Regions from separate parts of the Homo sapiens genome. Here region 2 is linked to region 1. The links come from fine-mapping of genetic effects on gene expression. Tissue or cell type: thyroid. Region 1 holds a variant in brackets; the other region holds the start of a gene. All regions are shown on one strand. Distances are between the middles of the regions.

Evidence for each region. PIP is the estimated chance that this variant, and not a neighbour inherited with it, causes the effect.
Region 2: TUBGCP6 starts here. The variant in region 1 is fine-mapped to the expression of TUBGCP6 in thyroid (GTEx, PIP 0.97).

The regions. Positions count from the first base shown.
Region 1 is chr22:50,192,310-50,194,983 of GRCh38, forward strand. It overlaps TRABD (TraB domain containing), which reads left to right. Exons shown (of 10, transcript NM_001320485.2): 2 at 718-784; 3 at 1,267-1,345; 4 at 2,031-2,197; 5 at 2,591-2,674. The coding sequence starts at 752. Among named protein-coding and RNA genes, the nearest start is that of TRABD-AS1, 7.1 kb to the right of the region's middle. RefSeq lists enhancers at 211-260, 341-430. The variant G/A (reference allele first, on the strand shown) is at 1,290.
Region 2 is chr22:50,243,530-50,246,203 of GRCh38, forward strand. TUBGCP6 (tubulin gamma complex component 6) reads right to left here and starts at 1,494. Exons shown (of 25, transcript NM_020461.4): 1 at 190-1,494. The coding sequence starts at 930. HDAC10 (histone deacetylase 10) reads right to left here. Exons shown (of 20, transcript NM_032019.6): 18 at 2,381-2,563; 19 at 2,146-2,298; 20 at 1,654-2,001. The coding sequence ends at 1,978. RefSeq lists enhancers at 83-1,013, 587-866, 1,277-1,326 and a silencer at 1,797-1,866.

The DNA of each region.
Region 1 (2,674 bases):
TGCAGGCGCCTGGCTGTTTTCTTCCTTCCCTCAGGCTCCTGGGCCCCCGGCCTGAGCTCCTGGTTTCTGAGAGTCTGTGGGGAGCTGTGATGCCTCGGGGCAGCCCCCTCGTGTGGCTGCCCCAGCCTGTCCGGGTTTCTACCGTGGTTCCTTCCACACCATGTTTGTCTCTTAAAGTGGGAGAGAAGGTCTTAGGTCCAAACACGTTGATTTGTGTGCTTTGTGGATTCCTCCGTCTGTACTGACTCTGTGCCGGTGTTGTTGCCCAGGCTGTAGTTACTGAAAGGGGAAGTGGCTTTTGTACAAAGGCCCTGGGGTCCTTGCCATGTGTCAGCAGCTGCGTTGCTGTGTCCTGAGATCATGTGTGGACCCCAGGGCTGCCTTCCTATGTGTGCCCGCCGTGCCGCAGTGAGGGTTGGGCAGCTCTGGCCCTGTTCTGAGTGAGGCCTGTGCACCAGCAACCCGCCCTGGGCCCGTCTGCGTTTGGTTTATGCTGGGGTGTCTGGGGACCTGCTGGCCTTTCCCCACCCGGGCCTGACCTGAACCGACCCTGGACCTCAGCAGCCTTTGATGGGCAGGAGGCATTTGGGGATATGGGGGAAGGAGCCCCCAGGCCCACCCAACAGATGGTTCTAGACTGACAGGGCACTACGCAGTGAGTCCTGAGCCAGGTCTGGGGCTCCAGGTGGAAACCCCGCCTCTCATGCCTCTCCTCAGGCTCCCCACAGGTGCAGGAAGCCGCCGCCCAGCCATGGACGGGGAGGAGCAGCAGCCACCGCACGAGGTGAGGTGGAGGCTGGGCTGGCTGCACAGAGACAGGGGCGGGGGGCTTCCCCGCTTTGTGGGCTCTCGGGGTCGGTCCCTGGCTGTTGTTCTGCAAAGGTGATCTTCACAGGGTTCTCCAGGGTCAGGCAGGAGGCACCTCCGAGGGAGAGGGGCGCTGGGCTGAGGTGGCCTGGTGGCCCTGTCTGCCCAGCTTGATGGCAGCCGTGCCAGTGATGGCCAAGCAGGAGGGGTACTGACAGTGTGGGGCCTAGGCTCTACGGAGGCCCTGCTTTTCAGGGTGTGTGGTACACAGAGCGGCCACGGGTCCCTTTCCCGGGTACGTGGTCCGTGGAGCGGTCACGGGCCCTCGTTTTTCAGGGTGTGTGGTCCACACAGCGGCCACGGGTCCCTTTCCAGGGTACGTGGTCCGTGGAGTTGCCACGGAGCCCTGGCTTTCTGGGGTGCATGGACCCTGACTTGAACTCTCCTTTCCACCTGCAGGCCAACGTGGAACCTGTTGTGCC[G/A]TCAGAGGCTTCAGAGCCGGTGCCCAGGGTGCTTTCTGGAGACCCCCAGAACCTGTGTACGTGTCCCTCAGGGTCCTGGCACGTTCCCCGGTGTTGGGCTGTTGAGTCAGGGAGGAGGGGGAGGCAGCCAACCACTGCCAGGGGCTTGGAGCTTGTGGTGAGCAGGGGCCCTGGCCGAGACCTGAGGTAGGTGCTGCTAGGCCTGGTGCCACCCAACAGCAGCTGCTCCTGGGCCCTGCCTGGCAGTGGAGCCTCTTGGAGGGGCTGCAAGCAGCACAGGCAGGCCCCTGGGCATGGGGGGCTCGTGAGCACAAGCAGTGTGAGCGGCACGGGAGTCCCTCCTTGCTGTGGCCTCAGCCTGTCCCTCCTGAGTGGGGTGGGGGGGCCCATTTCGCCTCAGAGCCCCTCCCCTAGCTGAGCCCCCTGCGGCACCTGCCCCCACTGTCCCCCACACCGAACCTCATCCACAGCAACCCCCAAGGTCGCCCTCATGGGGTGTATGGGGCACAGGACTCCTGAGGCCCTGGCTTCTCGAAGCCGTGCAGCTCACAGAGGTGGTAGCCGGTGTTCCCATCACTGGGCAGGCAAAGCCTGTGGAGTGTGACGCTCGTCAGGAGTCTTGTGCTCTGCACCTGTTCAGTTCTCAGAACCCAGGAGGGTTCTAGAGCCCAGGCTGCCAGCGGGCCCGGCGGCGTCCTTGGGGTGGGCCCGGCACCACAACGGCCTGTGCTGCTGTTGCAGCCGACGTGGACGCCTTCAACCTGCTCCTGGAGATGAAGCTGAAGCGGCGGCGTCAGCGGCCCAACCTGCCGCGCACTGTGACCCAGTTGGTGGCTGAGGACGGGAGCAGGGTGTACGTGGTGGGGACAGCCCACTTCAGCGACGACAGCAAGAGGGACGTTGTGAAGGTGAGCGCCGCCACCCGCCACATCCCGGACACGGGTTGGTGTAAGCTCCTGTGTCCTGCACTCAGGGACCTCCCGGCAGGGCCCGTGTGCCCGTGTGTGCGCACCGCAGGCCTCCTGCTTCAACACTGTGGTCCCTGGGAGTGGCAAGGTGGGCTTCCTGCCTGGGAGCCGTGACGGCCTTGTGCGTTTTCCCACTTAACAAGTGAACAAGCCTCACAGCTTCCTCTCTCGTCGCTTAGAGAATTGAGCTGTCACTGCAGCAGCGGGGTTAGCTAGCCCTGGGGTGACGCCAAGGCTGGCTGCTCCTGGGATGGGGCCCCTGGTGCTGGCGTCAGCTGTGCTGAGGGGCAGGGAGCGGCTGTGTTCTCGAGGTGTGACCTGTGGCTGTTGCAGACCATCCGGGAGGTGCAGCCTGACGTGGTGGTCGTGGAGCTCTGCCAATATCGTGTGTCCATGCTGAAGATGGACGAGAGCACG
Region 2 (2,674 bases), 51 kb after region 1:
ATTGCTTGAGCCCAGAAAGTGGAGGTTAAGGTGAGCCAAGATCGCGCCACTGCACTCCAGCCTGGGTGACAGAGTGAGACACTGTCTCAAAAAAAAAAAAAAAAAGAAGAAGAAGAAGAAGAAGAAAGGTCACAGGAAGCATTTTCCAAACCCCGAGAGAGATGAAAGAGGAAAAACTAAACATTCTACCTTAATAGCCAGCCCAGAGAGGTCCGCATTGTCTGGCACGGGGGGCAGGCCCAGTCGGACGTCCATGTCATAAGTGCGGCTGTGCACAAGGGCCCCGAAGAGCGAGACCCGGGTGTCTCTCTCGAACCTGTCACCACAAGGGTCACCAAATGAGAAGAGCCCGACGGTGGGCAGGCCAGTGCCTGGAGCAGCCTCCATAACCTGAAGTGTTTCCTGGATCATGCTGTGACACAAACACTCTTCTCTGGAGATCAGAGACTGAACGTCCATCTCAAACACACTCAGGTCGTCGCAATCATAGCCGCTGTACGGAACGTTTCTCCCCACATGCTTGTTGTTAAGGAAGTAGTCTCGTTTTCTCGGCAGAACTTGAGGGGGACCACTCCCTGCCAGCTGAACCAGGAGGTCCAAAACAGACCCCACCTCCAAAAGCGGACAGCAAGGGGCTGCTTCCAGCTCCTCCACAAGCTCCTCCAAACGGTCGGCCTTGGGGCCCAGGCCACCCACTCTCAAGTCAAAGGACAACATGAGGATCTTGTTTCTCGCTGGTAGTTTTGACATGTCAGGCTGCAGCTGTTGAGTCTCATCTTGAAAAAGATTTGTGAAAAGAGCATTGTAGGCCACCTTCTTGAGGCTCCGCTTTGCCCTCTTCCGGTTCACACTGCGCTGGCCCAGGTGAGTCTTGGCAGCCGGCAGGAGGGCCTCACACAGGTCGTCGAACAGCTGCGTGATGCTGGCCATGCCCCTTCTCAGCTCCGGGCCCCCGGCGTGTGGGAAAACACCTCACCCGGGCTTCACTCACGCTCCGGAAGACAGGGAGTGAGAGAGGGTCCGAAGAGGCTGAATGACAGGCGGCCTCTCCAATGCCGAAGCTCAGAACTGGTATTTTTTAAAGGAGGTCTTGCGGTTGCTCTACTCAGAGTAAACACGCCCTGCCCTCCCCAGTCCAAGCACGCTGCCCGGCGCCCGGCAGCCCACCAGAAGCCAGCTCGGCGTTTCTTCTAATTCAGTAGCCCTCAACCTTTAGGGAGTCACAGAACCGTGGCAAAACCGAAGAACGAAACGCGCGCCCGCGCAGTACAGCGGACGAACTCGGCTTTGCACCCGTTCTTCGGGACCCACGAGAGGAGACGGCCAGGAGAGGGTGCCACTCCGAGGGTCGTGGGCAGCGGAGAGTCTGGGGGCTCAGCCGGGTGGGTCCCGGGTTCTGGCCTGCACGTCCACCCGTTCTCCAGGCCTCACCCGTGGAAAGTGCCCACGGCTGCCGCTCTCGCCGCCTCCGTCGCGTCACAGCCGCGCCAGTGTGAAGAGCACTAGGGCGGGCGCGCCGGAAATACGTCACGGGAACGCCGGCAGCGCGTGAAGTTGGTGAGGCCTGGGCCGCGGCATACTTCCGGCCTGAGTCCGGCACCGCGGGTGAGAGACCGAGGCCGAGCGTGCTCAGTAAAGGAGGCAGAGCCAGCGTTTCGTTTGAGCGATGTTTACTAACGGCGCAAGGGCGGGGAGCGAAGCGCAGCGGGGCGCAGGGGCCGGAACGGGACCGAGCGTGGGTTGCATGGGCCTCGATGGGACGGGCCGGGGCGCGATGGGTGGGGCGGGGGCGAGGTGAGGTGAGGGGTGGAGCGGGGGAAGCACGGGTGGGAGAGGGCGGGGCGCGGGGATTGGGAGTGGGCGGGGTTCCGTGCCCCAGAGTCGAGGGAGCCGTGGGCTTGGGGTCCGGATCGCGGCCGCGGGGCGCTGGCGTGCGGTGTCATTTCTGCGGTGTAAATGCTCCCACCTTGGCCGATTTCAAGCCACCAGGTGAGGATGGCACTACAGGAGGAGCCGAGAAGAGGCGCGCAGTTGGCCTCCGGCGCTGGAGCTGGTTCAGGGCACTCCCCTGCCCTGCCCTCCCCACCGATCTGTGCGGCAGAGCCAGGCCCCAGGGCAGGGCCATGCCTCCGCAGTCAGCCTCACCTGCAACATCTTCCACTGAGGCTCCAGCTGCCCTCTCAGGTACATCAGGGCCTGGACGTCCTCTGGGGAGGCCACAGAGGAAGGGCCTAGGCTAGGAGGTGCCTCTCCATTCAGCACCCGGGCCAGGATCCCTGCTAGCTGGGGTGTGGAGTTCTGGACCAGGGGCGAAGACGGAAGCAGTCACTGGTCCTTTCCCTCGTCCCACCCCGCAGCACCTCCACCCTGCCCAGCTTACCTCCTCCAGGAGGGCCAGGACTCGGCCCCCTGCCAGCCCCCGAAGCATTGCAGCCAGGAGTGCAGCGTGGGGGCCCTGCAGGCCATGGCCAGGCCCCAGCGCCACCAGCACCAGGTCAGGCTGGAAGCCATAGGCCAGGGGCAGCACCAAGCCCAAGATGCAGCTCAGGAAACCACCGGTCATCTGTGGGGACAGCAGAGCCCAGCTCCTCATCTACGGACACCTGCTGGCTCTGGCCTCCCAACCTCCCAATCTCAGGGCCCCTGGAGTAGGAGCAGGGAGACAGGAAGGACC